2 linked regions of the Homo sapiens genome follow. The protein of the gene in region 1 purifies or fractionates together with the protein of each later gene. This does not show direct contact. Each region holds a gene or a part of one and is shown in the gene's direction. Other genes may lie near its edges. The genes, in order: RASGEF1A and MYO9A.

What was found.
Region 2: the proteins of RASGEF1A (region 1) and MYO9A purify together in Homo sapiens (affinity purification with mass spectrometry; one large-scale study listed by BioGRID and IntAct). This does not show direct contact.

Annotation. Positions count from the first base shown.
Region 1 is NC_000010.11:43,264,079-43,268,444, reverse strand, and holds the start of RASGEF1A (ras-GEF domain-containing family member 1A), read left to right. Parts: upstream 1-1,379; 5' UTR 1,380-1,600; intron 1,601-4,366. UniProt on the Homo sapiens protein: Guanine nucleotide exchange factor (GEF) with specificity for RAP2A, KRAS, HRAS, and NRAS (in vitro). Plays a role in cell migration.
Region 2 is NC_000015.10:71,821,717-71,825,203, reverse strand, and holds the end of MYO9A (unconventional myosin-IXa), read left to right. Parts: 3' UTR 1-2,913; downstream 2,914-3,487. UniProt on the Homo sapiens protein: Myosins are actin-based motor molecules with ATPase activity. Unconventional myosins serve in intracellular movements. Regulates Rho by stimulating it's GTPase activity in neurons.

The DNA of each region.
Region 1 (4,366 bases):
TCCAGGCTGTAGAGCATAGTGATTGCACCTGTGAATAGCCACTGCACTCCAGCCTGGGCCACACAGTGACACCTCCCCTTAAAAAATAAAAAAGAATCCCCCACCCTACAAGCTCCCCTCCCCCTCCCTTCGCTGGCTCCCTCTCCCTGCTGGGCCTCTCTGTGGGATCTGCAGCATCTGACACATGAACTATTTATGTGTATTTTTATTCACTGCCTACTTCCCACAAGAATGCAAACTCCAACCAGACAGAGACATTCACAGCCGAATCCCAGTGCCCCATCTTACACCTGGCATACAGGTGTTCAAGACACAAGGACTAAGTGAGTAAGCAAGGTCCTCAGCCTCTTCAAGGGGTGCTGTGGGGCTCCTCCCCATTTTTTCACACAGACCCCTCCACCTGGGGACATCGTCGCCCCAGACCTGTTTCTCACTGGCCCTCGTCTGACTGCCTGCAAGAGTCACTCTGGGCCACCCTGGGGTCAGGCCACAGGGTGTCCGTTCAAGAGAAGGTGACCCTTCAGAGCGACAGGAAGTTCCAGTGGACGCCAGAAGACCTGTGTCCTGCTTTAGTGGTTCTGAAATCTTTCAAGGTGGCTTTGGAGCCTTGCTCTGCCACTTATAGGCTCTGAGACCCTGCAGGGTAACCGCACTCCCTGTGCATCAGTTTACTAACCTGTCCAATGGGAACAAATCCACCACCGACCTTACAGGGCGATTAAGATGGTTAAGGGGAGTGACCCAAGGGGCCAGGACTTGCCCACAGAAGGGCTTTCACCGTCTGATTCCACTGACAAAAATTTTGCCAGCTCTGCGGGAGTCCCCAGAGGGCCTTTTAAATGCGGTGGCCGCATCGCCTCCTAGCTTGTCTGCTGCCTGATCCTTTTTTTTTTTTTTTTTTTTTTTTTTTTGAGACGGAGTCTCACTCTGTTACCCAGGCTGGAGTGCAGTGGCGCGATCTCGGCTCACTGCAAGCTCCACCTCCCGAGTTTACACCATTCTCCTCCCTCAGCCTCCCGAGTAGCTGGGACTACAGGCGCCCGCCACCACGCCCGGCTAATTTTTTTTTTTGTATTTTTAGTAGAGATGGGGTTTCACCGTGTTAGCCGGGATGGTCTCGATCTCCTGACCTCGTGATCCGCCCGTCTCGGCCTCCCAAAGTGCTGGGATTACAGGCGTGATGCCTTATCCTTTTTAAATGAAAGCCTGGCCGCCCTCTCCCGGCGCCCGCCCTGTCCCAGTGCCCTCTGCTCGAGCCCCGTCCCGCGCCCTACCTCCCCCTGCACCTTTGCCCCGCACCCTCCTCCCTCCGCGTCCCGCGCCCGCCCGCTCCCCCGCTCCCCGCGCTCTCGCGCCCGCTCCGTGCCCGCTCGGCGCTCGCTCCGCGCTCGCTCGTTCGCTCGCTCGCTCGCGCTCCCCGGCGCCGGCTGCGGAGGGAGCTGCTCTGCCCGCAGCTGGCGCAGCGCGGGGGCGGCCGCGGGTGGGCGGGTGCCGCGGGCCCGGGCGCCGAGCATGAGCCGCCGCCGGCGCCGGCCGCGCGCTGCTCGGGGCCCGACTGCGGCGCGAGGGCGGCGCGGGAGCGACGCTGGCCCGGACCGAGGTAGGCAGCGGCCGCGGACCCTCAGTGCCTCGGGGCCCCCGCCCGCGCCTGGGGCCGTGCCCTCCGGTCGCCGGCGCGGGCAGGGCGCGGCGTGCGCGGGCCCGGGGTCCCTCCCGGCGCGGCCGTCGTGGGGCCGGGGCGCGGGCTCCGGGCGCGGGGCGGGGGACGCGCGCGGGGAGGGCGGCCGGGATCCCGGCGCGCGGAGTTGCTGAGAACTCCGCCCCGGGCTGGACGGCGCCAGGACCCCCTGCACCCTCCGCCCCTTCAGGGCACCTGGCGGGCCGGGCCGGGCCGGGCCGGGCGTGGCAGGAGCGCACGCGGCGGGCGGGCGTGGGCACTGCGGGCAGGTTCGCTGCCCGGGGCCTGGCGTGGGGGTGGGGGCTGGGGAATCGGAGGAGCTCAGGGCTGCGCAGTTGGAAGTTTCCATTTGCTCTTCTGCATTCTGGGCCCCGCCGTGGTATCTCACGCCCTTGCTGTTTGGCGAGGAATTGGGGCTTGAGCTCTGCATTTGGGGGAGAGGTCCAGGGCCATGCCAGGTGTCTCCCTCTCCCTGCTGGGCAAGGGTCATTTGAAGGACCACGCTCTCTTTGCCCCAGGCCTTGCCGGCCCCAGGAACGGGGCAGGTGCAGCTGGTTCTGGTCCGAGGGTCGGTGAGTGAGAGGTGGGGGCGGGAGTCCCCTGCTGTGTGTGGAGGGACGCGCTGGCAGGTTCCTGTGCCCTGCATTTCTGGCTGCCTCTGGGTGCTGGACCTGGTGGATATTTACAGAGAGGCCGCTGCCTGCCTCTTGGGAGCCACCTGGGGGCAGAGACCTGGTGGTGGCCGGGGCTCCCTCCCTCCCTGCTCAGAGCAGTGAGCTTCTCCCTGGTTCACCCTCCCCACCACTGCCACTCTTCTCCCACTGTCCTGCGCAGGAAGGGCCCCGATGGCCGTCGGCCGCAGGATCCTGAAACACAGGAGTCAGGCTGGGTGCAGGGGAGCCTCCCAGAGGCCTTGGTTCCCTCTGTCCCCCCAGGGTTCTCCCGCCCCCTCCGGATGCAGTCTTGCCAGCCCAGCCTGTCCACCTCGGTGCCCTGGACTCTAAGCGGCTCTAGGGGGCCTCCAGCCGAAAGGCTACAGGTCTTGATTCGTGAACCACGGGCAGGCTGCAGGCTTCTGAGACTCAGTTTCCCCATCTGTAGACTGACACGGTTTTGATGACCTCTGAGGACATTTCCACCCTGATGTCCAGTGACACTTTGCTTTGGAACCTCAGGACCCCAGCCCAGGAAGGGGAGATCCGGAGCAGGGGGACATGGAGGACCTTGGCTGGATGGCCAGGGACACGTGGGTGGGTTCTCTGCCCCTCCAGCCAGTGTGTGTCCTTAGGGCTGTGGGTGGTAGTGACCCAGCGAGGCGGGTGCAGCAGGCCCACACTCCCTGCTCCTGAGAAGGGCATGAGCTGTGTGGATCCCCCAGGCTCTCTAGTGAAGTAGAGAAGCTGTGTCCTCCTGCACATGCCCCTGGGTTTGTGAACCAAGCAGGTATCCCAGGTGTGCCTTGGCCTGAAGGCCAGCCAGTGAGTTTGTTTTTCTCTGGGAGGCATCTTCGAGCTGCCAGCCGGATGGCTCCCTTCCACCTGGCAAATCGTGGAAATGGAACAGTTCACACAGAGCAGAGGGGTTTTTTGGTGTAACTTAGCAACTGCAGGCAGGGGAGGAGGAGGAGGAGGGAGAAATGGCATTTGTGCTGGACAGTGGCTGCGGTGGGGAGAGCCACGCACACAGTGGCCCCCAGCGGTGGGAGGGGCCAGCCAGGGAGGAGAGCGAGTGGGCACTGGGACACAGTGTGGCCAGGAGCCCCTGAGCACGCCGGTCCCCACCTGTAGAATGATGCCAGGGGCAGGATGGGACAGCTTTGGTTGGCCTTTGGTTTTTGGCAATAGAACCGTGGGTTTCACAGAAGCCCTATTTGTCAAATAGGTCAAGTGAAGGTGCTGTGCCAAGGCAGGGATGGGGGCAGGGGGTTTGGCCCCCCCACTGTCCTCAGGAGAGGGGCTGGTGGAGGGATGCTCTTCTCTGCATGGCCCACCCCAGGGGAGGGGCGCTGGGCTGCTGGGGGTAGGTGCCAGGGGCATAGCAGATAGCAGATGGGGAGGAGACTCAAGGCATTCTCCCCCACCCCTCCCTGCTGCCCCTTGACGGACCCTCCCTCCCCTTCCCCCTTTTTCTCCTGAGGCCATCTGCTTGGGTCCGGCACTCTGGCTGCTTTTCTGTTGGAGCTTCCAATCTGCCTCCTGTAACTCCCACCCACTCCAGCCTGCCTCCCGGCTCCTCTGCCCTCCCCTGCCCACTCCCTGCTGGGGAGGATGAGTGTTTACCTAGCAAGGGTGTGATGTGCGGAGGGAGGGGACTGAAGTGGCACTGGTGGGCTGACAGCCATAGAGGAGGGCCTCTGATACCCACTGGTGGATTGCTGGGGGTGTCAGAGGCCCTCCCCTATGGCTGTCAGCCTGACCTGCGGGGGTCCAGAGAGGGCTCACTGCCCACTTTTTGGGTGTATCCCTGTCGCCACTTTTTGGGCACAGAGCCTGGGGCTGTGGGTATGTGAGAGTGGGCTCTGGGCCGGCCCAGAGTGGCGAGCTGCCAGGAACCCATGCAGAATGTCCCTGCGCGCTGGGACACCAGGAATTCCCCAGCTAGCAGCCCGGGAGCAGGGTTTGGGAAGGTCAGCTGGTATGGCCAGCAGTGGCTTGGCGGGCACTGTGTGAAGGGAAGCCCGAAAGCCCC
Region 2 (3,487 bases), on another chromosome or scaffold:
CACATGAGTTATAATAGCATTTTAAGTATCTTAGCATTTGTGGGATTAGAAATCTGTTTTTGCTATTTATAATATATAAAAAATGAAACATGATAGCCTTTCTTGAGATAAGTATGTGAAATGTTTATTTTTAAAGTTACTAAATGCATCTTGTCTTGCTACTACATGCACTGCTCTGAAAAAGAGCCTTTACCATCTATAACCTGTATTTTGGGTATTCTTCCTTTTCATACTTCTTTGAAGTTGTGGAAATATTAAGTCTTTTGTTAAGGCAGAGTCTCTCTCTCCTGTTACACAACACTGAACCTCACGCCACTGCCTCAGTGGTTATTGGCCAGCCCCAGAGGTTAGACTTGGAGCATAATTCTGAGTGGCAGCTAAAGGTAGCAGGAGTCTTACCTCTCCCTACTTTGGGTTCAGAATTGAGCCAGAGAAAGGAAGCCATTAAAATCTCCAGAATAATGATAGTTAATGAGCAAATGTTATGCTTTATATCCCACAGACATCTGCCACCTTGTTCATCTTGTCCTGAGGAGTAATAAATAATGTTAAGCTTTTAAAAATCTGAATTTCAGAGAATCTCCTAGAGGATAGAGGAAAACCCCTCAGCATGGTGTGTTAGAGTGGGATTGCTGGTTCCTCAGCCCCGTGCCAGGTTGCACAGTCTGTGTTTCAGTGTTCTTGGGAGAGTAGTGTACTGCTGGGCATTAATTGTTACTCTGCACTTGCTCCAGAATGTTGGTTAAATCCTGTATGAAAAAAAGAGATTGCCCTTATGGAATAATTTCCTGTGGCCCAGAGGAATGGCCAGAAGAACATATGTTGGCACATGTTCTTCCTTCTAAATCTTTGTGGGGCTTTTTTGGCAAAATAAGTTTTTTGGCAGTTAAAAAACGACTGATGTAGGTCACTTTAAAGGAACTAGGTGATGGATGTTAAGAGACTTTATAATTTTTCTCAGGGACCTGAAACTCCAGTTTGGATAAAATTCAATTAAAAAAACTTGTTTTTTCAGTTGCTAGATTTGTGGATTTCTAGTAATTTAATCTGCCAGGATTGGGGTGGGTGGGTGAGGAGGAGAGAGCCACAAAATGATAAGAGTGGAGAGCAGTGTGGGGCCCTCCCTTTGAGGGAAAGCCGTTGTTTACATAGGGTAGTAGGCCTTGTTGGCCTGATCAAGAGATGAAGCCATAACTCTTAAAAACCTTCAGAACCAAACGCTGTGTCTGCATCCATCTGTTCTCACTGGCCCTCTGCATGGTAAAGTTATGTCACCACAAAGTGATGCCGCATTACAATCACTTATGAAACTGTTAGCCCTTAATATGCATCACATTTGTGGTTCCATAGTGCTTCTCCTTTGCTTGTTTGATCTCTGCATGGCAGCAGTGGGGCAGCTCCACATTTGGAGCCCATACTCCAAAATGCAGAGCACTCTTCTCACAGCACACATTCCCAGCCCCAAACAAAACCTGAATTTTCAACTCTGCCCATTAAAGTGAATGTATCCCTGTAATTTAGTATGTACTTATTATGGAAAATGTAACAAAAGCAGAGAAGTGTGATTTCATTCTGTATCACAAATTGAAGCAAATCAACAGCAAATACAGCAGGATTCAGGGAGGCTTAGTTTACAACGTACTTTGTACCTCCTGCCATTTAAATTATTTTGCCACTCTGGGCTTCTGAAAACACAAAGGGAGATACAGCCCTCCAACTATGAGCCTTGCAGAGAGAGACAAAAGGGCCAGAGGTCCTGGGATGGAATACTAGAGCCCCCACCTTCTCATGCTTTGGAAACCTGCCAGAGCACTTACCCTGCTGGAAGATTAATGAAGACTCCATTCTGTGTTTCATAACAGTAGCGTTGTTTTCTCCATCAAAAACAGAGGGTCACAGAAATGTGCTGAAAAGATGTGGTCCAGCAAGGTTCTGTAGTCCCACCTCAGTGCCTGTGGGCTGTGTTTTTCACTGTAACAAGCACTTTGGTAAACTAGAAAGAAGAAAGGATTCTCAGGATGTGTTCAAAGCTAAGAGAGTTTTCATTTTAAAAAGAAACATACATACTCACTCCATGGCTTTCCTCATCCTCCTCTCTTTTTTCTTCTTGGTGGGAAGCTGGATGCGGGGCATGCATCATTCTGTATGGACAAATGTGTTATGTCCACCCATACTCTTGTGACAACTCCCCAGCACTGTCCTGCAATACCATGCTGGCCTTGGTAGTAAAACTCCTTGGTATCTGTGAGAGTCCTCTTTTTCTATGCCCTAGACTACTTTTAACCACTTTTCTCTGGAATGACTCCCACATTTGATTGGGTATTGAAAGGGTAACAGCAAAATGATGATTGTGGAGATGGATCTATTAGGTCTCATGTTGGTCCCCTGGTTGAAACTATTTTCAAAAAAGCCCCAACAATGGGCCTGTCACCTTGCTAGTCATCCATTCTTAATGCCTATTTATCAGCCCTCTGAGGTCATATAAAAGTTGCACCTTTTGAACCAAGTATTTGTATTTACTATGGGAAAGGTGTGGACTACAGATTCGTATTATATTATTTTAATGGATTTTAAGTAATTTATAAGTATGCTGAGTGTAAATTTTTTTTAAAAACTGTATTATAAAAGGACATATCCTGTGAAATATAACATTTTACTGTTTAATAGAATAATTCTATAAGAAGAATGATTTATCTCACCCACGGAACTGATTACATTCCGGATGCAATCAATAGGCACTTTGTAATTTCCTTTTTGTTTTTTTTTCTTTGCTGGGGGGTTGAGGGGTAACAAGATACCATCTGTATAAAGTGCAGTTTGTGTCACTCAAAATATGCACTGTATGGCTACACAAAAGCAGCTTGATGAACAAATCACCCCATGGCTCATTAAAGAACAAAGCTTCCAGAAGCAGCAATATGTGTGGTTTGTTTTCCAACCATCCTGGCTCCCACTCCAACTATTCCAACCCAACTCCAAGAAACAGCAGTGACTTCTTAGTTACACTGATGTGTTTTCAGGAAAGGACTCAACCCAAAGTTGACAAAGCACAGAGGTGGTAGTCACTGGAACTCAACTGAATTCAAGTGAAGGTGTGATTCAAGGTGTCGTTTTTTCTGTAGTGGATGCAGGCTGCTGGCTGTCAAGACTTCATTTAATCGGTTTAAGGCTAGAAGGGAGGAAAAGCAGTAAATCTGCATTTAGGATCCTCCCCTAAATTGGCCACTTGAAGAAGTTGCTAATAGAGGTTGCCAATAGAGGGCCCAAGGATTCTCACTGAAATTCAAAGCAACACATTGCAATAGGAACAGAAATTTTAACTCAGTTTGTCATTTTTGTTCTGCTACCAACTTTACTGCATGTCTGGGAAAGGCATTCGCTCTCTCTGAATGTTAGTTTTCTTATCTGGAAGTCAGTTCTGTTTCCCAAACTCCCAGCTTTGGAGAACTCCTACTGACTCGCAGGTTTTAGTATAAAAGGTAGTTGT